Homo sapiens: one gene and its partners. The protein of the gene in region 3 purifies or fractionates together with the protein of the main gene of each other region. This does not show direct contact. Each region holds a gene or a part of one and is shown on either strand. Other genes may lie near its edges. The genes, in order: SMS, FBXO33, IPO5, MACIR, AHCY, PREP and TNPO1.

The links.
Region 1: the proteins of IPO5 (region 3) and SMS fractionate together in Homo sapiens (co-fractionation; one large-scale study listed by BioGRID). This does not show direct contact.
Region 2: the proteins of IPO5 (region 3) and FBXO33 purify together in Homo sapiens (co-immunoprecipitation; one study listed by IntAct). This does not show direct contact.
Region 4: the proteins of IPO5 (region 3) and MACIR purify together in Homo sapiens (affinity purification with mass spectrometry; 2 studies listed by BioGRID and IntAct, with this or other methods). This does not show direct contact.
Region 5: the proteins of IPO5 (region 3) and AHCY fractionate together in Homo sapiens (co-fractionation; one large-scale study listed by BioGRID). This does not show direct contact.
Region 6: the proteins of IPO5 (region 3) and PREP fractionate together in Homo sapiens (co-fractionation; one large-scale study listed by BioGRID). This does not show direct contact.
Region 7: the proteins of IPO5 (region 3) and TNPO1 fractionate together in Homo sapiens (co-fractionation; 2 studies listed by BioGRID). This does not show direct contact.

What each region holds. Positions count from the first base shown.
Region 1 is NC_000023.11:21,975,209-21,978,708, reverse strand, and holds part of SMS (spermine synthase), read right to left. Parts: intron 1,649-3,500; coding exon 1,473-1,648; intron 750-1,472; coding exon 595-749; intron 1-594. UniProt on the Homo sapiens protein: Catalyzes the production of spermine from spermidine and decarboxylated S-adenosylmethionine (dcSAM).
Region 2 is NC_000014.9:39,429,634-39,433,702, reverse strand, and holds the start of FBXO33 (F-box only protein 33), read left to right. Parts: upstream 1-1,269; 5' UTR 1,270-1,540; coding exon 1,541-2,139; intron 2,140-4,069. UniProt on the Homo sapiens protein: Substrate recognition component of a SCF (SKP1-CUL1-F-box protein) E3 ubiquitin-protein ligase complex which mediates the ubiquitination and subsequent proteasomal degradation of target proteins. Probably recognizes and binds to phosphorylated target proteins.
Region 3 is NC_000013.11:98,005,675-98,009,174, forward strand, and holds part of IPO5 (importin-5), read left to right. Parts: intron 1-455; coding exon 456-674; intron 675-2,384; coding exon 2,385-2,468; intron 2,469-3,500. UniProt on the Homo sapiens protein: Functions in nuclear protein import as nuclear transport receptor. Serves as receptor for nuclear localization signals (NLS) in cargo substrates.
Region 4 is NC_000005.10:103,261,763-103,265,262, reverse strand, and holds part of MACIR (macrophage immunometabolism regulator), read right to left. Parts: intron 1,370-3,500; exon of another isoform or gene 1,257-1,369; intron 1-1,256. UniProt on the Homo sapiens protein: Regulates the macrophage function, by enhancing the resolution of inflammation and wound repair functions mediated by M2 macrophages. The regulation of macrophage function is, due at least in part, to its ability to inhibit glycolysis.
Region 5 is NC_000020.11:34,289,856-34,293,355, reverse strand, and holds part of AHCY (adenosylhomocysteinase), read left to right. Parts: intron 1-848; coding exon 849-998; intron 999-1,824; coding exon 1,825-1,937; intron 1,938-2,417; coding exon 2,418-2,625; intron 2,626-2,717; coding exon 2,718-2,805; intron 2,806-2,906; coding exon 2,907-3,024; intron 3,025-3,500. UniProt on the Homo sapiens protein: Catalyzes the hydrolysis of S-adenosyl-L-homocysteine to form adenosine and homocysteine. Binds copper ions.
Region 6 is NC_000006.12:105,393,083-105,396,582, reverse strand, and holds part of PREP (prolyl endopeptidase), read left to right. Parts: intron 1-3,500. UniProt on the Homo sapiens protein: Cleaves peptide bonds on the C-terminal side of prolyl residues within peptides that are up to approximately 30 amino acids long.
Region 7 is NC_000005.10:72,886,161-72,889,660, forward strand, and holds part of TNPO1 (transportin-1), read left to right. Parts: intron 1-909; coding exon 910-1,062; intron 1,063-1,917; coding exon 1,918-2,143; intron 2,144-3,500. UniProt on the Homo sapiens protein: Functions in nuclear protein import as nuclear transport receptor. Serves as receptor for nuclear localization signals (NLS) in cargo substrates.

The DNA of each region.
Region 1 (3,500 bases), on a different chromosome or scaffold from region 3:
AAAAGGAACTTAATCTTCTTTTCTCCTCATGAGATGGCTTTAGAGAAGCCATTTTGGAAACTGCTAGGCAGCAGACACAGTATCAAAGTCCTTTGCTCTTTAATCCTCAACTAGGTAGATTATTTGTTTGTTTTTGAGACAGAGTCTTACTGTCACCCAGGCTGGAGTGAAGTTGCGCAATCTTGGCTTACTGCAACCTCTGCCACCTAGGGTTCAAGCAATTCTCCTGTCTCAGCCTCCCGAGTAGCTGGGATTACAGGTGCCCGCCACCATGCCTGGCTAATTTTTGTAATTTTAGTAGAGGTAGGGTTTCGCCATGTCGATCAGGCTGGTCTTGAACTCCTGACCTCAGGTGATCCACCCGCCTCGGCCTCCCAAAGTGCTAGGATTACAGGCATGAGCCACTGTGCCCAGCTGATTATTTCTTTGTTGATGGCCACATAAAAGGGTACTGTTACTAAATTGTCTGTTCAAGGCAGTCTAGGTAACACATTTGCCTCTAGTCTGTGGTAACATTAATTTGAGTTGTGAGACACTGAAGGAAGGAAACAAAAGAAGCCCACTGAACTTGTTCTCTTATACAACAAAGGATATCTCTACCATAGTGACCATCTTTGGTTTTAGTTTGACTATTTCACACAATATGCCTCCGTCTCCACCTCCCAGAATGAGTACATCTTTGCCAGTGTAATCTTCTTTGCCACTGCCCATGATGGCCCGGGTATATGCCAAATCACTCTCTGCCAAATCTAGGGAGGAGAAACAGATCCAAATGGTGAGTCTACCTTAACACACAAACCACCTGGCCCCACCACACTGAAGAGCTGGGATCTAGACCAAAATGTAAATTTTTCATTTTCAATTTTTTAAAACTGTGAACAATTTGCAAGCTTTTTTTCCATTGAGGACTTTTTCATCAACCCTGATCATCTGACACCTAATACAAATGGACATTAGTCAGTGGGAAGAAAATCCAGCCTTAAAAATGTGTCAATATACCGAATAACTAAAAGCAATTACATCTTTACAAATGAAATAATATGATGTCTGTGAGCTGCTTCAAAATAATATGAGAGGGACAAAGTGGACTGGGGTTTAGGTAAAATAAGACTGGCTAGGAGGTGGTAATTGTTCACACTCGATGGTAAGTACATGTGGGTTCATCACACTAGTTTGTCTACTTAGGTTTGAATTGTTCTGTAACAAAAAGGTTTTTTTTTTTAAATATGCAAATGCATTTTCTTTTGAAATACAATCCAAATACTCATCACTAAGGAAGCAATGTCAAGACAAAGTTTATGTGAAAGCCCAGACAATCCACAGGTTAATATGACATAAATGTGCATCTCAAAAACCAGCAGTGTCAAAAACAAACTCAAACAAATCCACGACAGTAGTAATTGTCAGGAAAACACCATCATTCAACACATCACCACTTTGTTACGTGATCGGGGCAGGGATGGAATACTTACTAACATCCCCACTAAGGATGAGAATATTTCCAAACTGCTTCGAGTGTAGAATTTTTATATTTTGATAAGGTGAATCTTCGTCATATACCACTTCATCTATGTCATATTCAACCAGGCGCCCGTCGGCGGTGGGCCAGTATCTGTCGATGGCTCCTCCTCGCACTATGGGTGGTAATCTGGAAAAAGAGAAAAACAGAAATGTACCTTACTAGAACACTGCCTTACAAGTGGAGCTAGGATGAAGAGTGTGCAAAAGAAAGCCACATGACTGCCGACTTTTGACAAGCACAAAACGAATCCAAAGCTTGGGCTTTTAGTTTTATATAATCACGGCCACCACCAAATGTTGACAACTATTGTACACAGTTCACTTTTTAAAAAATCCTGTCATGCTTTAGATTTTCTCTAACAAAAAGCTGAAGGAGAAGATGGCCACTGCACACTTCATATTTCAAATGCTCCAGCAGCATCTGTCTCTTAAGACTATCTACATAACTACATGGACATTACCACATTTACACCAGTTCACATGGGTATGATATGGTTATCTAGTACAGAGTCCATCTTCAAGTGTCCCCAGTTATATCCTTTATAGATGTTCTGCTCTTGAATAAAGGCTCATACACTGCATTTCCCTGTTTTTTTTTTCTTTTTTATCCTCATGTAACGTATAATTTTTTTTTTACTGGTATGTTTCATGACACTGATATCTCCAAGTACAGACCAGCTATTCTGCTGAAAAATGACTCGTGGGTTTACCTGATAATCTCTCACTCTTCATGGTTAGAATCAGGTTGACATATATTACACAGGCATCACATCGGGAACACAAGATGTGTATCTGTCCTATTATTGGTGATGCTAAGTCTGTGATCACTTGGTTAAAGTGGTATTCATGGGCTCTCTCCATTTGCAAAGGTACCTTTTTCACCCTCTGAAATTACTAAGCAGGCTGTGGGGTGGTGCTCTGAAACTAGGTAGAAGTCCTCACCCCCCAACAAACCTTTACCAGTGGTTTTAGCATGCAGAAGATTCTGGCCTGAACCAGTTACTACTACAGAGGCTGCAAAATGATGATTTTTTCATTCATTCTTTTGTAAATACCCGGTATTTTTCACAGGATGAATGTACTAGAAGGTACCAGCAGAGGACACTAAATGACAGGAAAAAAAAGACCTGGAAAAGGGGCTTGGCAAGTCTAACCCAAACACAAAGAAAACGAGAGCTCACTGCATACATAACACAACTGCGTGAGTCATGTGTTCTCAAACACAGTAGTGTTCAACATTAAAACGCCATGATGTACAGCTGTAGACATGTAAAATGCTGGGATATGCGGCCTGACGTACTCTTATGAGTCTCTTTCCCTTCCCTGCTCACCAGCTTCCAAGAGTACAGTCTAAACCTGTTACAAGTTAACAAGGCTTTCTATGAGGGAATACTAACATCTATAAAGAACACCGAGATTGAAAAGGCAAACTCCCATAAATTCATGTCATCCTGACAACTCTTCATTTAACCACTTCTTCACCTTCCATGTGAACAAATTCAGCTTTCAGAATGTGAGGCATTCTAGAGGGTTTTTCTTGTAAATTGTAAAATGTGAAGCACCAATCAGGACAACTGCTAGAGAGCAGGCGAACAGGACTTGGAGGAAGCCTCTTCCACCCCTGGCTGATGGTGGGGAGTGAGGTGAGAGTGAGCCACCCATGGCATTGGATGAACGACAAAGTCACTCACTTCCAGGGGAGGAAGACTACCCTCTCCTTGACAGCCAGCCACCTATCGGCAATTACTGCACTACAGGCAAACCCACTGAAACTAAACAGTGCCTGTTCTCAATTGTGTCAATAGTGCCTTGGCTAAGGTGAAGAGCTCTTTCCTACATTGTAACTCTATGGTTTTTTTAAAGACTAGCAAAGAAAGAAGGATCTTAACAGGATGTAAATGCCATTACCCTGATGAAGTGCTCAACCTAGCATTAAAGGGCATCTCGCTGGTAGCCCTATAACGGGCTACCAGGAGGTA
Region 2 (4,069 bases), on a different chromosome or scaffold from region 3:
ATAAGTAACCTATCACAATTGATAAACCACACCATGTTGTTGGCAACCTGATATGTGCAAGGCATTAAACGGAGAGCTTTGCCCTCAAAGGGTTAAGAACATCTAGAATGGGGGTCTCCTCTTTCGTCTTGGGAGCCCCCTCCGTCTGTCTCTGTAGTGGGGAGCTTCTTCCTTCAGCCTTCTTCCTTCTTTCTTGCCTATTAAATTCTCCGCTCCTTAAAACCAAAAAAAAAAAAAAAAGTCCAAAAAGTCTTGGTGTTTACCACAAAAGAACGATGCTATTCCAACATCACAGCCTCCCTAAAGCAACTCTCAATTATTACATAAAGAGGCAGCCTCCCTAAAGCAACCCTCGATTATTACATAAAGTCACTTAATCTTTTCTGACTTCACCACTCTTTGCAACCAGAGTTTACTTTGCAGTAGGCTGTGGTGAAGTTAGGGACATGGTTTGGAAAATCTAAGTTAGGGATACCAGGCAAAAAAAGAAGAAGAAGAAAGAAAAAAAATCAAAGCTCTGTCATTACTGTGAACTTTTCAACGAGAGCCTTAAATCTCAGCACAGGGAAAAGAGACCCTTCCTCAAGCCCTGGAGAAGAGGCTGGTCACAACCTGCGGATCTCAGATCCCTTTGCCAATTTTTTTCTCTCCCTCTGAATCCAAAGGGTGACGCTGTCCTCACTGCTTCCCCACACACCAGCGAGTGCGCGGAAGTCCACCTGCGTGGTTGGACCGAGGGGGCAGGTCCATTCGCGGCCTCCGCCACGCCCCACACCGCCCCTCCCGGCACAGCCCGCCGGGGTTAGCCCGCCCGTCCGCCAGCTCCCTCTCAGCGGCGCAATCTCAGGAATTCTTAACCCTACTCTGGGCAGGTGGGATGGCTGAGAAAGACCCTGCATGCCGCCACTTTGGCTCAGGGTCCTCAGCCCAAACTGAGAAACGTTTTACAAAGAAGCGTGACGACCTTTCGCACTAAACCAGAGTACCGCCACCTCCATCGACCGAGCGCCAAAATTAACCGACTTACAGATGTGACTGGGCGCAGCGGCCACCGTAAGGCGTAAGGGGTGCCAAGTGCCGGTTCCAGTCCCGCCCAGCCCCGCCCCGCCCCGCCCCGCCCAGCCCCGCCCCGCCCCGCGGCCTGCGTGCGTCAGAGATCACGTGCCGCGCCTCCCGTCCCTACAGGCAATCGGGCGCTCCCCTCTTCCGGAAGTCGCGCCGGTGCGCGCCGGACTCCTCCCACCAGCGGCGACGTCAAACTCAGCTCCTACCACTTCTCTGTCTCTGCCGACCGGCGCAGGGAGGGCTGCCTTTTCCTTACAGTACGCCTTGAGGCTTCCGGGCCGCTGAAGTTTACGAGCGAGGGCAGTGCAGTTACTCAGTGTGCCGGCCTCGGACGCACGTGAGTAGAGTTTGAGAAGACAGAGGCTGGCTCCCGGCAGGCCACGCCCGCAGAGGCCTTTCCCCCTCTCCACAACTTGTGTTCTACTTGGTTCCGCCGAGACCCACGACGGTTCCGCCCCCTTCTTCCTAGTCATTGATGTTGTTGTTCTTGTCAGTGCCGCAGCCCCGACCGCCGGGAGCTCGAACCCGAGCCGGGGCCGCCCGGGTGGCGCGGTGGCGGCGGCTGCGGCTGCAGCAGCTGCGACGGCTGCGGGGGCTGCTCCGGGTACTGCGGGGGCGGCCGGGAGCCGGCAGCCGGCGGCGGGGCCGGATGGCTCTGTGCGGGCAGGCGGCGGGCGCTGCGTCGCTGCCCAGCGAGCTGATCGTGCACATCTTCTCTTTTCTGCCGGCGCCCGACCGGCTGCGGGCCTCGGCCTCCTGCTCGCACTGGCGTGAGTGCCTCTTCTATCCGGCCCTGTGGCCCCAGCTCCGCATCTGCCTCCGCGTCTCGCCCGCGGAGCAGCCTCGGCTGGAATTCCTCATGCGCAAGTGCGGCTGGTTCGTGCGAGAGCTGCGTGTTGAATTCGCCGCCGAGAACTATCTGAGCGGCGGTGGCCCAGGGGACGGAGGTGGCGCGGACACCGGGACTGGAGGGGAGGAAGTCGAGGCCCTGCAGCTCTCAGCTCGTTGGCTGGAAGTGCTGCGCACCTACTTGGAGCTGGTGCTTTGCGTGCTGGTCAGCATCCGGAACAACAGGTAGGCTTGCCCTGAGCCCCGCCCCGCCCGGTAACGGGGGGTCGCTCCGTCCCCGCACCCCGACACAGATTCTGTGCATAATACGTGCCCGGCCAACTTCAGTGTTGCCTTCCTCAGTGACGGAGAGTGTTGGTTCTAACTAGGCGGTTTCCTTGAGCGGAAAGGCATAACGGGACTCATCACGATACTTTATAAACAGTGGTGGACGGGGTGTTTAACAGACACCACTTCTGGCGCCTTCCAGGCACTCATTCATCCTCTTGGTGGCCGTGGGATGGAGCTGACAGGCGCTGTCACTTTTCATTTTATATATGGGAGCGTTAAGACTGGGAGGGTGAGGCCTGTGGGTGAGCCTTGGAAGAAACAAAACATACACATAACACGATTTTCTGACTCTGAATCTGTTAGAAATAGTTCATGGTGAGGGAAGGAGTAGGTACTCATAGGACGCTGCCTAAAAGAAATTTTGTAACAGCCATTTTCTTACCAGAAATAGTTTCGGCTAACTGAACAAGGCCCGAAGAGGAGGAGGAGTGTTTGTTAAAGGGATTGGGGAAGAAGTTGATCTTCAGGGTTGAAAGTCCCTCCCCATACACCACCACACTCAACTTCTCCCCAGTAGTTCACCTAAAAGTAACAGTCGGGCGGAGGAGGCGGGCGGGCAGCGAGGGAGTTGGCCAGGGTCTGCAGAGGGTAAGCACATAACTGTTCTGGTTTTGCATCAGGACTTCACTGTAATTCCAGAACTAACGCCTTATATTCTGACCCAGTATCCCTCCCAATCATCATTTTTCTCCATCGCCACCTCCAAAACCCTATTAATTTAGATCTTCTTTATATGGATATTCTAAAGAACCTTACAGTAAAGCTCTTATTAGAAGAAAGTTTAGACGTTCACAAAAGGAGCACCTTACATAGTAAAAATACTTCAGCAGTTTCACATTCACTGTGTTGTTTGAGCCTCTCAGTGGCACTATGAGGCAGGGTAATGATAAATAACCCTGTTTTACAGAAAGGAAACTGACCCTTTATAGGATCAAGTGATTTGCACATTGCTGTACGGCATTGTTTTTCTCCGAAAGCGTGTCCTTTTGCAGTAAATATACTGAACATTATGTTGAACAAGGTTGAGAGCAGTCCCTGGTTTAATGCTAGGAGATATATATAGATATAAGGTTATATATATATATGTATGCGCCATTAATCTGTGTCTTAATTTAGAAGTCAAGAGATAAGTTATAGCTCCAAGTTGTATCTGGGATATGGCTCCATTATTCCAGTTGCCTGTGCGTTTCCACAGCTTTTCGCAAGACATTCTATTTCCTTACTTTGGTTTTATCTGGCAGGAGAGGCCATTGAAGCTAAAAACAGATTAGGTTAGAGACTTTCTCAGAGTTGAATGTATGGCTAGAGGACCAACTGACCCAAAAGTTGCAAAGTTTCAGTCAGTGAGCACTTACTAATGAGACCAAGGTTGAGGGTGAATTCAATGAGTGAGTACCAATTAGATTTTTCTGTACTGAGATCAAATTGCACTTTTATGCAACCATGCAAACACTGTATGTGCCTTTGACCCAAGTAAGAACAAGACTTGATAAGTGTCTAGTTCCTTTTAAGTATTTTAATAACTGGTTGGTTGGATGGGTGGATAACATACAGGCAAAATGGAGATATTTCACATCTTTGCTTTGTAGCTTAATTCTCCTGTCCTTCTCTTCCTTACCCCTACAATTTTTATTAGCATCCCAATCTGCTTCTCTATAAGGCCACCGATGCCTGCCCTTCTGGGTCAGCTATCACTTCTATGCAAAAACATCACACCCGTCATCCCTAATTTTAAGGTTTGCTTGTCATCTACTATTAGCATGGTGTTGTATGTCATGCTGCTTTGGTAGCATATTCATTCTGTTTGTCTCAAAATGTAGTGTAA
Region 3 (3,500 bases):
TGCGATCTTCTGGGGAGAGGGGGTTAGAAGATAAAGGAAGGGGCCAAAGAGGGAATTTTCTTTATGACGTAGTAAGACAGCACAAAATATAATCATAAGTAGAGGAAATCAGTGAAGAAAAAAATGAGGATGAAGTGTAGGCATTAAAGTTGATGAACACAAAAATTTTGATTCCGTATCTGTACTCAAGAATTAGCTGTGCTTTGAGATGAGACTAACATGAGTTAGAGGTGTTGTGTTAATAGAAGAGAGAAAAAAAAAATCTCACATAAATAGTTCAACATAGATTCTTTTTATAGAAATTTCCTCCAAAACCTACAGTCTCTGCTTCTGGAGAGGTGGTCTCATTCTGCTGTTTCAGAAAAGCATTCAAGAACTTGAAGGGAGTAGTAATTGTAAATTTAAATACTTCTTCCAGTTTTCCTTTGAGGTAATAATTTGTGTCTTCCTTCTAGCTGATTCAGAAAGGCACCAAGTTAGTTTTGGAACAAGTTGTGACATCCATTGCATCAGTTGCCGATACTGCAGAAGAAAAATTTGTCCCCTACTATGATTTATTTATGCCATCACTGAAGCACATCGTTGAGAATGCGGTTCAAAAAGAACTGAGACTTCTGAGAGGAAAAACTATTGAATGCATTAGCCTCATTGGTCTGGCTGTTGGGAAGGAAAAAGTAAGTAATTTTTTTTTTTTTTTTTTTTTTTTTTTTTTTTTTTTGAGACAGAGTCTCGCTCTGTCACCCAGGCTGGAGTGCAGTGGCACGATCTCGGCTCACTGCAAACTCTGCCTCCCAGGTTCATGCCATTCTCCTGCCTCAGCCTCCCGAGTAGCTGGGACTACAGACGCCCGCCACCACGCCCGGCTAATTTTTTGTATTTTTAGTAGAGACAAGGTTTCACTGTGTTAGCCAGGATGGTCTCAATCTCCTGACCTCGTGATCCGCCCGCCTCGGCCTCCCAGAGTGCTGGGATTACAGGCGTGAGCCACTGTGCCCGGCCTGTAATTTCTATTATGTTAAATTTACTGTACCTAACTTGGCTGTGGAGGCATTGAGAGTACTAGAGGGATTTTTTCCTTCTGAAAAATGGTTTTCTGGATGCTTGTTTTTTTCCTTACTCCTTTCACATTGCTCCTGTTTTATATACAAATTCTTGCCTTCATCTTTTCATTGTTTGTTTGTTTGGTTTGGTGTTTTTTTTTTTTTTTTTGAGACCAAGTCTCACTCTATCACCCAGGCTGGAGTGCAGTGGCATGATCCTGGCTCACTGCAACCTCTGCCTCCTGGGTTCAAGCGATTCTCCTGCGTCAGCCTCCCAGGTAGCTGAGATTACAGGCACCTGCCACCACTCCCAGCTGATTTTTGTATTTTTTTTTTTTAGTAGAGATGGGGTTTCACTGTGTTGGCCAGGCTAGCCCTGATCTCCTGACCTCAAGCAGTCTGCTCACAGGTGTGAGCCACCGCGCCCAGCCCGTCTTTTCATTGTTAATATTAAGGTTTCTTTTTAGCTCAGCTGTGCTCCTGATGCCTCCTCCTTTCCCCACCACACACAGTGCATCTCGTGGGAGGTGTGTGGAAGTCAGTATCCATGTTCGTTCCCTTTAAATATGTGCTTGGAAACATGTCACTTGCTTTCCTATTAATCTAAAATGCATCAAGTGTTCTAAGAGAGAAATCTATGCATATAGATCTTCAGAAAATAATTACCAAGGACCATTGGCCAGTGTGTTTCTCAGCCAACATCTCAGAATTGTTCAAGCTAATGCAAAAGAAGTTTCTCTGTCATTGAATCCTCATGTTCTGACCCTGAGAATTATCAACAGAGAAGCTCTGTCTTGCCTTCTTCAAAACCAGCATCAGTATTAATTTATATTTGGAACTGGTTTCTGTGAGACGCTGACCACTAAAACATTGGTATGTTTTTTACCAATAAAATATTTGTATGTCCCATACTCTATATATCTGGCTTTCAATGTCTCTTTAAAACGCTGCCTGTTTATACAATGGAGATTACCAGAACTGCAAAGAGTTAAGTGAAAATCATAGACAAAATTTTATGCAGTGAATTCTATAAACAATCTAAAATTTTCTTTCTGAATTTGAATTCAGTTTTACTGCTTGAAATGCGTAAGCCATAGACTAACACCTGATGCCATTAGAAGTACCTTTATACTGTAGTTCCCTGCCCTTCAGTGGAAAATATATTTTTCTAGAAAGTGAACTAAATCTGTCACAATATAGATGAGAATTTTTCAATATGATAGTTTATCTATGAAAGTTATGACCTATGTGGGCAATGTAGTCGATTTTTTGGCAAAGCTTTGCTAATTACACAAGAAACAAAATTCGGTATCAACAAGTGTGTCTCTACATATTTTCCTCTAGTTCATGCAGGATGCATCAGATGTGATGCAGCTTTTGTTAAAGACCCAGACAGACTTCAATGATATGGAAGATGATGATCCTCAGGTAAGTGGTCTTAATGCATTTGCTTTGATCCGCTAATGAGTTGTGGACAGCACATGGTTCAATATATTTAAAACAAAAGGAGTGATAGGTTTCTTGACATACTATCAACCCCTGCTAGCAGAGACATTCTTCACTGATTTTCCTTCTGTTTCTCAAGCTACTTTTTCTCAGTCTGTTGTAGGTTGCTCTTGCTTTCTGTGACTCTCACTCAAGTTTTGGTGTTTGTGGGTTCTATCCAAGGCTCTCTTCTCACTCCTGTGGAGCAGTGTCACTCACAGACATGGCTTCCGGTTTCCTCTGTGTGCTTGCAACTTTCAGATCTTCAGAATTGAAGATTCATTTATCCAACATGTAATAGACATCTCCATTTGGGTGTCTCCTAGCCCTTTGAAGGCTGCATGATCTCCCTCCCCTGGCAGAAAATACAGAACCCAAGAATCTCAGGACACACTGCTTGCCTCTCCGCCAACGAACAGACAAAGGCATTTCATTAGGAGGAACCCCTGCCTCTCGACACACACGCACATACACACATAGGTATACATACCCAGCTAACGCTTGCTCACAGTTCTCATCCTTTACAAGATTTTCCTGATCTGCTCAGTCTCAATGGTGGGCAGTTCCAACACTGTTATAGTAACATCATAAATGTTTGTCATATCTTGATGGTATTCCCAATGCCTAACATATAACAAGGCACTCAATAAATAATTGTTGAATTAAATTTTGACTTTACATTGCCACACTGTAATAGTTTAAATAGGAAAACATACCATTTTGCAAAGAAAGCATGTTTTGTTGTTGTTTGCTTTCTTTGCAAAATGATATGCAAATATACATGTATGTTTTGTATGTACAGAGATAACAGGCAGGAGGGATACTTAGCAGACTGCTGACAGTAGGGAGACTGAGGGGACTGTAAGCTGTAGGGAGGGGTGGTAAGGACGAGGCGTGTTGCTCACCTTTGTATCAGCCAGCATATAGTTTAATGCCTGGCATGTGAGAAACACCCAGTACCTATCTGAAGAGCGG
Region 4 (3,500 bases), on a different chromosome or scaffold from region 3:
AGACTGATGCGAGGCAAATGATTAGAAGTCTCTTGGATAACACAACAAAAAAAGAGAGTGACTGAAAAAGCACTTTTTTATAGTTACCACCTTACTTAAGGTTTCTAGCATCTCCTCTGTGCCTTCCCTCTCTTACCTGGGAAGTTAATGTGTAAGAGAATCTATCTTTATCTCCTACCTCCCTAGTTAATAGGGTTAATTTGCTGAGACGAGGAAAACCCTCCAAAGTCCTTTTCCACCTGTAAAAGTTTCTTTGGTTGTTGGTTTTCTGTTGGGTTAAACAACAGAAGCAGTTGGAGGGGTGTCAAATGAAGCGAGTAGATTCATTTTATCTATGTAGGTGCACAGAGCCCAAGAAGTGTCAACAGTACAATACCTTATCAAACAAAAGACAAACTGCAAGAAAAAAGGCAAGGAGTTTGTAACTTTATTACTTTCCCTACCAGTACAGGAGAGTTTTATCCAAAGGAAATAGATAATTACTGAGTTTAATATGTGCTTCTTTAGCTTGAGAAACTGGAAGGAGCCAATGCACCAAGAACTGTCACTCCAAGAAACTAGCATGTTTATCAGCCTTTGCAACTTCTTCAGATGTAGATAACAGAAACACTCCCTTTCATGTATTTTGCCACCAACTATTCTCAAATTGGGGAACCAAAAAATCTTGAAAAGTAAGCCTTGATTCTACCCCACCAATGAAGCCTCTGGTTTTAACACACAGTAAATTGTAACAAAAATTGTTACCTACAGACAAAATGTTTATTTAATATAATTATCCCAAAGAATTTCCCCAATACTAATAACATTCATCTGCATTTCTTATTTAATGGATTTTTAATGGGAAAGAGGAGTTCTAAAAACGAACATTTCTTTAGCATCTTCCTTATGTCAAAAGTGATATACAATTTATATCATTTAATCTTAACTACTCCATGAAGAAAATATTATTATCCCATTTTTAAAGTACTCTTTAGTAGTAGCCCTATTTTAAAGTACTCTTTTAAGTGATACTACATGAGAGTCACAGCAGGAATTGGAACCCCAATTGGTCTGACTCCAAAGATCATTTACTTTACACTCTGGCCTCTGTTCAATGATAAGACAACATGTATAGCCTTTTACACAATAATCATGATCCCGCAAAATGTATATCAAGTAATTTCTATAAGTGAAAATCTATTTTAAGTGTATGGGTAGGCACTTTATCTAAAAGCTTTATTGCCTCATTTGTGAAATGGTTGGGGGAACTACTTAGCTGCATGGTTATTTCCAACTTGAAAAATATTAAGATTTGGTGGCACATCGTGGAAAGTCTTATACAAAATCCTTCTGAATCATGGACTCTTTCTCCTATGAGCTTCTATTTTCTAAAATCATAAATTATGCGACAGAAAAAAAGGTATCAACCAATACCGTCTGGTTATATGGTTGGATATCAAATACAGTTATATATTTCCGCTTTATTTCTCAAGACTACATCTATCACAAAGTGGGATAGATTTCATTTATACTTTTATAAATGTCAATTTAAAACAAGCAGGAGGAACATTAGAAATATCTGAATGTCTTAATCCTAAAGAATAGTTTTGACAGTCTTAAATCTCATTCAAACTTTCATATAATTTGCCTCATGTATTTGGTGACATATTCTTCTTTTTAAGCTTTTAAATGCATTAGAAAAATATTTACACTTTCAAAGAGTTTCTTTTTCAACATCAAAAGAAAGAAATCAACTAAAACTTTAGTCTGGATTTGAAAGCAGAGGAGCCTTGAAGACATTACCCAACTCTTGCACTGGAGCTGATGTGTAAATCTAGGAAATGATCGGTAATTTCATAGTAAACAAAGAGTAGTAACTGATTATTCCTATTATGCCAGTGCCAAGCCAAAAATAGAATATAAACACAATGTCCAAGGGAGCAACACAAGAAAACCAAGGTGCAGAAGCTCCATTACATTCTCACTTTTTCTAATTTTGACTCTGCTTCCTGCTTTGTGGGAGGAGGAGGAAGAGCAGGAGGAGGAGGAGGAAGAGCAGGAGGAGGAGGAGGAGGAGGAGGAGGTATATGGTGAAAAAGAGGGAAAAATAAATAAAAAGAACAAGACCAGAAACTAACTAGTATAAGATTATACGTTTTCTTTAAGACATAACCCATAAAGAAATCTACTACAAAATTACAGTAAGGGTTCTACCCCCATCTCCCACTTATAACAATTAAAAGATTGTAATATAAAAATTCCCAAAACATGTACCTTTCAAATAACACACATTTTTAGAATACTTTAAAAATCTATAATTCTCTAACGCTTGCAACTGATTTTGGCCAATGTTCTAAACACTGAAGGCTTGGAAAGATATCAACAGATTTCCTCTCCAAAACAGTCAGCAAGAGGAAAAGGAATCCATGTGAAATTCTTAGAAGATAGACTAAATGCTGCATAAAAACAAAGACTGAAGTAAATAGAGCAAAGGCTACAAGATATAATAAATGCTTCCAGTTATAAGAAGCTGAAACAGAATGCAGTGGGACATTATCCCATAAGCAATAAAAATAGGAAAAAACCAAGCAGTGGCCAAGAGCTGCCCACAGACTTCTGGATAAGAAAGTCATGGGTGACTAAGCAAAAGACACCCAACATTTCACTGCAAGTGGAGCTTCTACAAATAGAAAAGTTTGCAAACATTAACTACCAAATGTATCGAATTTCTCAGGTGATAGTTATTATCACAGGTAAATAAGAATGCCTTTCAAAAGAAGAGTGACTATATATCTCAATTCATAGTCAATACCCTGGCATAATTATTGAAAGCAACCCCCTTTAACTCTCAAAAGTGTCTCAGTTTGGCTGTTTCATTTGTTATCCTACTCAAAAGCAACATGGAAAGGCAATGACTTTTTTAAAAAGGGAAACACCCTTCTGCTTGAACGGTGAATTCCCATACAGGTCTGAGTTCTTTCTTCGGGTGTACCCACTTAGATATTCACTTATTCAGTCATTCAACAATGTTTCTTAAGTCTTATTATATATCCCCACACTATGCAGGCACTGGTGCACATATAAAGAGATGGCCTGAGACTGGGTCAGAGGGGAGGGCAGACATGGAAATAAATCCTTCTAATAACAGTAAACCTGAATGGCACTAGGAACCCAAAAAAGGGAGTGCCTTTCCCAAAAATATACAAAGCTCCATTTGGAAATGTTTATGTCCATACAAAATTCGTAAACACACAAAAAAGTCGTGAATCTCAAGCTTCAGCACAGATCACTAACAAAACAGCAGTAAGAAAAAATTTAACAACATTGATCACAAATCATAAGACTATAAATATGAGGACCAGCACATAGCCCTTTCAAATATTGGTAAATAAAAATCACATTCATCATTAAAGTTTATATTATGAAAGGACAAATTTTAGGCAGAGAAATTGGTACAGTAGAAGCTGTGAGTTCTAATTCTAGCTATCAAAACATTTATTTTCATTTTTTTCATGGCCCTA
Region 5 (3,500 bases), on a different chromosome or scaffold from region 3:
TGGCTCTGCTTGGCCAGCGTCCTTTGCTCACAAGAGGCTCCTGGGAACCCCACACCTGTGCCCTAGTCATGCCACATGGGAGGAGTGTGGGCTGGTGGTCAGTAGCCCTCAGTTCTGGTGTCTATTCTGGAATTTCATTTAGAGTGGCCCAAGTGCGTCTTAGCTCCTCTCTGGGCATCTGTAAGTGATGATAATGGTCATGGCTGCCTCACAGGGTTTCTATGAGGAAGAATGAGATGGGGTATGGAGGATTTAGAGTCATGTCTGGCAGAAAGCAAGTACCCCACACATGGTAGCTGCTCGTAGTCATTTTTTGGCCAGACTTTGCCTGAGATTCCCCCACACAGAGGCTGCTAGTGCTCCAGTCCTTTCAGTGCAGAGCAAACCCTGGATCCTGCCGTGTGGATCCTGCTGAGGGGGAGGCGTTGTGGGGTATCAAGCCCTGGTCACTCAGGGTTGATGCCTCAGTCCTTGGCGCCCAGGCAGAAGGGGATGGGAAAGGAAAGAATGATTTCCTGATATCTATATCTGGGGCGGGGGGCTGTACATGGCTTCTGTCTCACTTAATCCATACTATTGTGAGCCCTATTTACAGAGGAGAAGACTGAGGCTCAGAGAGGTGAAGTGATTTGCCCAAGGTCACACAGCTGGCAAGTGGCAGAGCCAGGGTTTGAACTCAGATCTATCTGGCTCCAAGTTGTGTCCTGACCACTGCTGAGTTTTCAGAGGGGCCGGAGGTGGCTGGGGATGGGAGTTGGGAAGGAGGTAGTTTTGGCTCTGCCAGAGTTGTTCCCTGGAGCAGGTACCAGTTGGGAAGTCCAGGCCCTGATGTGCCACTCACCCTCCAGTGTATGCCTGGAAGGGCGAAACGGACGAGGAGTACCTGTGGTGCATTGAGCAGACCCTGTACTTCAAGGACGGGCCCCTCAACATGATTCTGGACGACGGGGGCGACCTCACCAACCTCATCCACACCAAGTACCCGCAGCTTCTGCCAGGTGAGCAGGGCGGGGCAGGTGGGCTGGGTGCTGGTGGCCTGGGTGGGGCCTGTTTGCCCACATGATGGCCGCAGGCCTGGCAGGACTCCCATCACCTCAAGCAGCAGGATCTGGAAGATGGGAGGATGGCAGGCTCTGGCATTCATGCTGGGGCCTCCTGACTTCTGAGGGTGCGAGGCTAGGGCAGCTGAGCTGATGGCCCAAGGGCAGGCACAGACAGGGCCATGGTTGGGAATAGCTGGGAGGGAGCCAGCTTTGTTCAAAGCAGGTACGCAGAGTGCAGAGGCCCTGAGGCAGGAATGGCTGGAGTGTTCAGGAAACAGAAAAGAGGCCCACAGGATAGCAGTGAGCAAAGGGAGCCTTCACTGCGGGTATGGTGTGAACTTCGTGAAGACCAGATGTGTCAGGGCCTAATAGGCCAATAGAAAAGTGTTTGACCTGATTTGCAGAGCAAGGGGAAATAACTGGAGGGCGTTGAGAAGATTTCTCTGAGAAGATACATGTTAGAAATGGCTGCTGCATGGAGGATGGGTTGTGGTAGGGAGACTGGGAAGAAGCGACAGGGTCACGGACTAGAGCAGCGGCAGTGAGAATAGAGAAGCTGGGAGTTGTTCGGAGGCAGAGTCACTAGGCCTGGTGGTGGCTTCCCTGTAGGAGGGCGTTGGGGACTCCTCCCTCACGCGGGTCTGGGTGATTGGGGGGCCTGTGGGATCAGTCACAGAGATGGGAACCCAGAAAGAGGAATGGCTTTAGGGGGTAAAGATGAGGAATTTGCATGAGCACAGGTGTGGCATCTCTGAGGCTTGTCCTGTCCCCTCTTGTTTAGGCATCCGAGGCATCTCTGAGGAGACCACGACTGGGGTCCACAACCTCTACAAGATGATGGCCAATGGGATCCTCAAGGTGCCTGCCATCAATGTCAATGACTCCGTCACCAAGGTGAGCCGAGGGGCAGTGACAGCTCCCGCTACAGTGGCTGCAGCTCAGGACGAGGCCTCTGAAGAAGAGTGCCCAGGAAGGCTGAGATTAGGGACATGAAGCCCTCATTTGAGGGGGCAAAAGCGGTTATAGACAGGCTAATGAGTGCGTTTAAAAGGGGTGTCAGAGCTGGGTGTTAGGAGCTTTATGGCTTTGGGAAGAAGAGCTTTCAAGTTAAGCAAGGTCTTTGACCGGGCAATCTCTCCTAGTAACTGATGCCTAGGAAGGCTCCACACTGGCAGAGAAAGATTAGAGAGAAGCTCTTTGAGCCGATCGGGGTGAAGGGCTTGTGGGGGCATTGGGTGCTGGAGGGGTTCAGCCCAGGCCGGGATGCTTGGTGGGCCCATGATGCCTGGGCTCTTCAGAATACTCTGAGGCCAAGTTGTCCTGGCCCCAGGGCCTTGCCTGCCCCTATTGTCTCCTTACCCCCTTTCCTTTCAGAGCAAGTTTGACAACCTCTATGGCTGCCGGGAGTCCCTCATAGATGGCATCAAGCGGGCCACAGATGTGATGATTGCCGGCAAGGTAGCGGTGGTAGCAGGCTATGGTGATGTGGGCAAGGGCTGTGCCCAGGCCCTGCGGGGTTTCGGAGCCCGCGTCATCATCACCGAGATTGACCCCATCAACGCACTGCAGGCTGCCATGGAGGGTAGGATAGGGCAAGGGTTGGTTGTCAGCCACTGGGGCCAGAGGGAGGGGCAAGGCCACCGTAGATGACCCACAGCCACTGTCTCTGCACAGGCTATGAGGTGACCACCATGGATGAGGCCTGTCAGGAGGGCAACATCTTTGTCACCACCACAGGCTGTATTGACATCATCCTTGGCCGGTAGGTGCCAGATGGGGGGTCCCGGGGAGTGAGGGAGGAGGGCAGAGTTGGGACAGCTTTCTGTCCCTGACAATCTCCCACGGTCTTGGGCTGCCTGACAGGCACTTTGAGCAGATGAAGGATGATGCCATTGTGTGTAACATTGGACACTTTGACGTGGAGATCGATGTCAAGTGGCTCAACGAGAACGCCGTGGAGAAGGTGAACATCAAGCCGCAGGTGAGAAGCTCCCGCCTTGCCAGTGGGCTGGGCAGATGGGAGTGCAGAGGAGTGCTGGCTGCCAGGGAGGAGAGCTGAGGAGATGGTGGCAACCTGTGCAGGGGGATGGGGAGAAGAGGGCCTAGCATCAGAGCCAGCCAGACGTGGCAACCTTATCCTGTGGGCAGCCGGCATCCCTGAAGGTATCAGGCAGGTGAGCTGTATGTGGTGAGGCTGTAGTTTTAGAAAGATCACTCTAGCTACTGTGTGCAGAATAAAAGCAACAATGGCGGGTGGTGGGGAGAGAGGCTTTTAGAGGAGGCTCGTAGAATCCCTGCAGGGGATGATGGCAGCCTCAGCTTAGGGAGTGCTGGGGTGGATGGACGGCATGTGGGGTCAGGATGGAGGCAGAGTAACAAAGGACACAGCTTTGGCCGGGCATGGTGGCTCACACCTGTAATCCCAGCACTTTGGAAGGCCGAGATGGGCGGATCACC
Region 6 (3,500 bases), on a different chromosome or scaffold from region 3:
GAGACCTGAATTCAGATTTGCCAGGAAAGCATCCCTTCCTGATGTAGAATTGCCCATCTCCCCACTGGGACAAGGAAAGGGATGGAGTGAAGAGCTTAGCCAGAGCATGATGGTATATGGAGAAAAGAGAGAAAGTAGAGGCAGGGGAGTAAACCACATGATCATCTCTTTCTTCTTCCTTTAGTCTCAAGCACTGGCTCACCTGCTTTCTGCTATCCTCACCTGTTCTTTGTGAGTAGTGTCTCTCCTTTGCCCACTGCAAAGCTCTTACAACTTCTTTTTATCCTTTGTCCCTAAAGTAAGCACACTGCTATTTTGAGATTTCCTAATGGTTTTTACTTTTATCTGCAATCCTACATTCTTTCTCTAACTCCCTTCAAGAAAGACAAAGATCTCATGGATGAGAATGGTTGATATTTGGGGTTTAATTTTTCTTTCCAGAAGCACTGGGTTATAGTAGTGGATGGGCAGAAATTCCAAAGTGAGAAACACCTGAGTATCTTTAGGAATGGTGAAGGCTGTAGCTCTGCAGGTAAGTCTGAGGGGACAGAGAACAGGTGTGGGGTTACCTCCCCACTTCATCCCTGCCATAGATTACCTTGATTGTTCAACACTGGGCTGACTGAGACAGAGGGATTGGGTCTGGGAGTGGAGAGTCACATGCACCTGCATAACCTGTACTGGCTAGAAAGCACCAGGGAAAGGATGAAGTTCCTGTGCATCTCTTGGAAAACTGTCTCTAAGGACCTGATGATTTCTTCACCTGAAGTATCGGCTATAACCTGGATTTCTACAGCCTTTGATGGTGATTGAGTGATTTAGCACTGTCAAAATGACCCAGGTTTTATCTGTTAGTGAATGTATACTTTGCTGTTCCTTAGTTGATAATGACAGGTTCGTGGATGACAAGCCACTTATTAGTGGATATCAGGCTTCCAATTAGTGGATGAAACTGCTAATTAATGATCTTATAGTCAGCACTTGATAGAAACTAAGACATTGGAGTATACACTATTTTTGTGGTATACATTTCTTGGATGGTTACCATGTGCCAGGCACTTTACCGGGAGTTCTGCATTCCCTGTTTCATTTAATTCTCAAATTCTGAAATATATCTTTTTATTTCCCCCATTTTACAGATGAAGAAATTGAGGTGCTGAGTGATTAAATATGTTGTCCATGGCTACTCAGCTAGTAAGTGTGTAGTCAAGGGTAACCCAGGTAGACGAGGTGGTTATCAATTACACATTAAAAAATAAGTAAAAGTAAAAAGACTGGGTGTAATACTTTGCAGATGCGAGCTAAAGGAATGTATTCATGTCTGTGCTTGCCATGTGCCTTTGTAGGCCCTCAGGTGTGAACCCTGGGCCAGCCCCCACTCCCATGCTGACCTGTTCTTTTTTAAAATATATATATTTTTTAAATTGTAATAATTCAGAGTACTGTGATCTTACATCCTTCTCTGACTTCATATTCTACCATGGCAATTTTTCATGTTAGAAAGCAATCTTTGCAGCCCAGAATTTTAATAGTGATACTATTTCATCAGGCAGATGCACTATATTATGCCTAATGACTTCTGTTGGAAATGATTGTTTTCAACTTTTCACTATTACAAATAATGTCCCAAATGTCCCAAACAAGCACTTTTCTAGATCTCCACATTTCTGACAATGACATGATTACTTGTTGCAGTAGCCTTGAAATCTCTTCTCCATTCTCAGGTATTTGCTTTTTGTCGTTGCTATCAAATGGGTTCCTTTTTCATTATTGATGGCATATACAAGTGTTACTGACTCTTTTGTTAGAGACAGGGTCTTGCTGTTGCCCAGGCTGGAGTACAGCCATCTTCTGGGCTCCAGCCATCTTCCTGCCTTAGCCTCCCAAGTAGCTGGGACTACAGGCGCACACCACCATGCCTGGCTAAACTAGCTACTGCTACCGATTTTATATTTATTTTGTACCTAGTTCCCTTACTGAACTCACCAAATTTTCAGTTATTTCCCTTAGATTTTTAGATACATAATCATATAACATATAATCAAATTTAGTGATAATTCTATTTTCTCTTCTATCAAACTTTGGTTATTTTATATATTTTGTACCTAGTAATTTTTTTGAACTCACAGATTTGAATAAGTTTTCAGCTATTTCCCTTAGGTTTTCTAGATACATAATCATATCATCTACAATCAATTATTATTTTCTCCTCTACCAAATTTCGGTTCAGGTCTTATTGAATTGGTCAAAGCTCTGCAAAACATGTAAGAATAGTAGTGAGAAAGAACTTTCTAGCCTAGTGTTTAAATTGTTATTTTGAATGATATTTGTCATCTTGTTTAAGCATTGTTATTCCTACTTTTAGTTTTGGATTTTGATTTCTTTTTAATACCAATCAGGGTAATTATATAGCTTCACTAATATATTAATATTAAAATGTCCTTGAATTCCTGTGATAAAATTCCATTTTTAATCTGTTTTTATGTTCCTTACAACTATATTTACAAGAAAAGTTGGTCAATATCTTGTTATCCAATATAATAACCACTAGCCACTTGTAGCTCCTGAGGACCTGAAATGTGGCTAGTCTGAATTGATTACATGTTGTAAGCATAAAATACATGCTGGATTTCAAACACTTAGTTTGAAAAAAAAAAAAGTAAAATACCTTAATATTTTATATGGATTACATAAAACCAGTCAGGACATTAGAAACATCTGTAGCTCTCTTATAAGATCTGAAATAGAGTTTCGATTTAATCTAGTATTTAATACAGGTTGGCCAATCCTGCCACTGCCTAGCATTTAAGGCTATATCCTTTATAAAACAAAATCAGAGAAGACTTGTAATGGAAAATTCTCAAAAACAGAGTTGAAATGATTTGTGTGTAGTGGATTAAATAAAATATATTATTGAAATTAATTTTTTTTTCCTTAATGTGGCTACTAGAAATTTTTAAATTGTATATGTAGCTTGCATAATGTATCTACTGGACAGCGCTGCTCCTCTGTTTCTTTACAAAATATCTCTGTTAACATATTTCATATCAGCGTTAGATTTGCTTCAGAGAATCAACTGAATTGTGTGTTGCCTTGTACAGTCTGAAGCATTTGCTATAAAATAGCAATATGGGCCTTGACAGCTAGAAAAGATTCATCCAGATTCAACTCTCCCTCTACCCCCTGCCCCGCCCCTGTTTTTGAGAATTTTCTGTTACAAGTCTGCTCTGGTTTTGTTTTATAAAGGATATAGCCTTAAACGCCAGGCACTGTCAGAATTAGCCAACCTAAATTAAATACTAGATTAAATCCAAGACCTACTGGTAGCATTTCAGATCTTATAAAAGAGCTACAGATGTTTCTCACTTCTTGAATGGTTTTTATTGGAAATGTAATAAGCAGCTTTTTGTTTTAGAAGCTCTGTAAAGATTCTCCTCTTTACAGCAAGGTATGGCTAATACACCTTTGTGTATATGCTAATAATGTGAATAGAAAATGTT
Region 7 (3,500 bases), on a different chromosome or scaffold from region 3:
TGTTGTTCTTTTTGATTTTGTTGCTCTTGTCTAAATTATTATTATAATAAAATCTGGGTTGATTTATAGTCCCATAGTTAATTCTTTGTAAAGAGTATTTTCTAGCATGCGTTATGTTTCATGTGCCAGTGACTTTTCTTCCAGTTTTTGTGTCTAAAGTCCAGCTAAGTAATTGTCTGTTTAATTCTAGATGATATACTGCTGGAAATGTTAAGTAGAGTTAATAATGTATGTTTTTTGCGTGATTGTAACAGTGATTGTAATCATGATTGTAATATGAGTGTATCATATTGAATGGTTATGTTAGAAGCACTGAATTGAGTGGCACAGTATTTGTTTTACTGTATAGACAGAATTCTAGTATGACAGTTATGTACAGAATACAATGTGTTCACAATTAATTTGCCAAGTAAGTTCTTGTCATAAAAAATATTCATCTTAATAGAAAATGTTTTTGGCTGGGCATGGTGGCTCACACCTGTAATCCCAGCACTTTGGGAGGCTGAGGAGGGTGGATCACGAGGTCAGGAGTTTGAGACCATCCTGGCCAACATGGTGAAACCCCGTCTCTCCTAAAAATCAGCTGTGCGTACTGGCACACACCTGTAATCCCAGCTACTCAGGGGGCTAAAGCGGGAGAATCACTTGAACCTGGGAGGCAGAGGTTGCAGTGAGCCAAGATCGCACCACTGCACTCCAGCCTGAGCGACAGAACAAGACTCCATCTCAAAAAAAAAAAAAAAAAAAAAAACCACAAAATGTTTTCACGTGACAAACTACCTCCTATTCAATTGAATTCTTATTTTAAAACTCCGTATTAGAGATACGAATAAAATGTTACATATACAATAAATAATATATAAGTAATAAGAGGTTAATGTAATATTTTTGAATTAAATATTTCCTTAGGAAAATGTTCTGCTGCTGCCCTGGATGTTCTTGCAAATGTGTATCGTGATGAACTGCTGCCACATATTTTGCCCCTTTTGAAAGAATTACTTTTTCATCATGAATGGGTTGTTAAAGAATCAGGCATTTTGGTTTTAGGAGCAATTGCTGAAGGTAAGCCTAAGTCCAGTTTGAATTATGTAAGTTGGCTTCTTACTACTATTAGGTACTAATAAGGCTAGGCTACTTTAAGGAATTTCTATTTTGAACCAGATAACTAGTATTAAACAGCCATAGGCCGTCTTCTAACCCCAGCTAGATATTTTGCAAAATGTTTTTGTTATAATAAAGGTAACAGAGGCCAGGCATGGTGGCTCACGCCTATAATCTCAGCACTTTGGGAGGCTTAGGCGGGTGGATTACCTGAGATGGTTTCAAGACCAGCCTGGTTAACATGGCGAAACCACGTCTGCTAAAAATACAAAAATTAGCTGGGCGTGGTGGCATGTGCCTGTAGTCCCAGCTACTTGGAAGGCTGAGGCAGGAGAATTGCTTGGACCTGGGAAGTGGTAGTTGCAGTGAGCTGAATTCGTGCGATTGCACTCCAGCCTGGGTGACAGAGCAAGACTCCATCTCAATAAAAAATAAAAACAAAAAAATTAAGGGAACAGAATGAAAGGCTCTGATGTCTGAAGCATCCCCATTGCTTTAAAAAAAAATCCTTGATTCTTTAGGTAAGTATAGGAAACACAATAAGGCAAGACTCTCTTCATTCTCTATGAAGGGTTATTATTGATTTTGTCCTGGCAGTAAACATCTATTAGAAGAAATTGAAACACTGTAAGATGCTTGGGAGCAGGTAGCTCTAACTTCAGGGTTTTAAAAATAATTTTGGTATAGGTTATTGTAGTATGTGTATAGCAGTAGAAATATTCTGAATTTTTTCATAGATACGTGTTTTATTTTCATAATCAACCAAAATAATGTTAACTAAATTTTAGCATTTTGAAAGATTTATTTTTTTTCTAGGTTGCATGCAGGGCATGATTCCATACTTGCCTGAGCTTATTCCTCACCTTATTCAGTGCCTCTCTGATAAAAAGGCTCTTGTGCGTTCCATAACATGCTGGACTCTTAGCCGCTATGCACACTGGGTGGTCAGCCAGCCGCCAGACACGTACCTGAAGCCATTAATGACAGAATTGCTAAAGCGCATCCTGGACAGCAACAAGAGAGTACAAGAAGCTGCCTGCAGGTGGGACAGATTCATAACACAGTGTTCTTTGTGGCAGTGAAAAACTTAATTTTCAACCTTCTGATGGAGTGTTGGTGTTAAACCTATAATGAAGTGTTTCGTAATTGAAAATTTTCCAGTTATATCAGAAAGCTTAGTTTTCTTTTTTCTTCTTGGTGAAGTGTTTTGCAGGATCTGTAGCTTTTGGGTTTGCATATTAGCGTATTTTATACATTTTGTTTGGCCAGGAGAATTTTGTCATGTGGGTTTTACCTGATGATTTTGTAGATCTAAATGTGACAACATCGATCTTAGCTGTTTCTTCTTTGGCTCATTTTTCCCACTCAGTGGTTATTATAACAGAACTATCTTACACCCTAATTCCCTCAGACATCTGAACTAGTGATGGCAGGACTCCTACTCTTGAAGGAATAACAACGTTTGAGCAGATTGACATCCTTAGACTACAGGTCAACCACCATAACTCAGAAAGTCCCACAGGGACCTGTGGTCTGTCACTTACCAGTTAAAGGTCTTTGAGTGCTTAGTAGTTCTGCTCTAGTAGCCATTCTATTGGTTGGTTTGGTGGCTGTCTCTTTATATCAAGCCAGCAGTTGCTTTTATTACTACAAATATTCCAGTTTCCTGCAATATACCTTTATATTTTAAAAGGGCCTTCTGCTTATGTTTATAGTTCTTAATTTTTCGAGTAGGTTTGCTTTTACCATTGACCTTGATAGTAGGAAAAAATAACTGTTGAACAAAAAAAAGGAAAATTTTATTTTATTTTTTTTAGATGGAGTCTTGCTCTGTCGCCCAGGCTGGAGTGCAGTGGTGTGATCTTGGCTTACTGTAACCTCCGCCTCTCGGGTTCAAGCAATTCTCCTGCCTCTGCCTCCTGAGTAGCTGGGACTACAGGTGTGCGACACCATGCCCAGCTAATTTTTGTATTTTTAGTAGAGATGGGGTTTTGTCATGTTGGCCAGGCTGGTCTTGAACTCCTGACCTCAAGTGATCCACCCATCTTGGCCTCCCAAAGTGCTGGGATTGCAGGCGTGAGCCACCGCGCCTGGCAGGGATAGTAAATTTGAGTTTGACCTTAATCCATCTGAAGCAGTCATATCTGGAAGATATTAAGGGAGGGAGGATATAGATTATGTTTGAGATCCTATAATTTATTCATTCAGTACCTCGGTTTTTTTTTTTAGCTATTAATTGTTAAGCATATACTAAATGCTGAGTTTACATAAAGTCCCTGCCATCTTGAGACTTACAGGTTAGTAGGAAATACAAAGCAGCAACATAATTATCATTTATGGCAAGTGCTATGGAAGAAATCGGTAAATAATTCACAGTGCTGATGACCAGGGCTTTCATT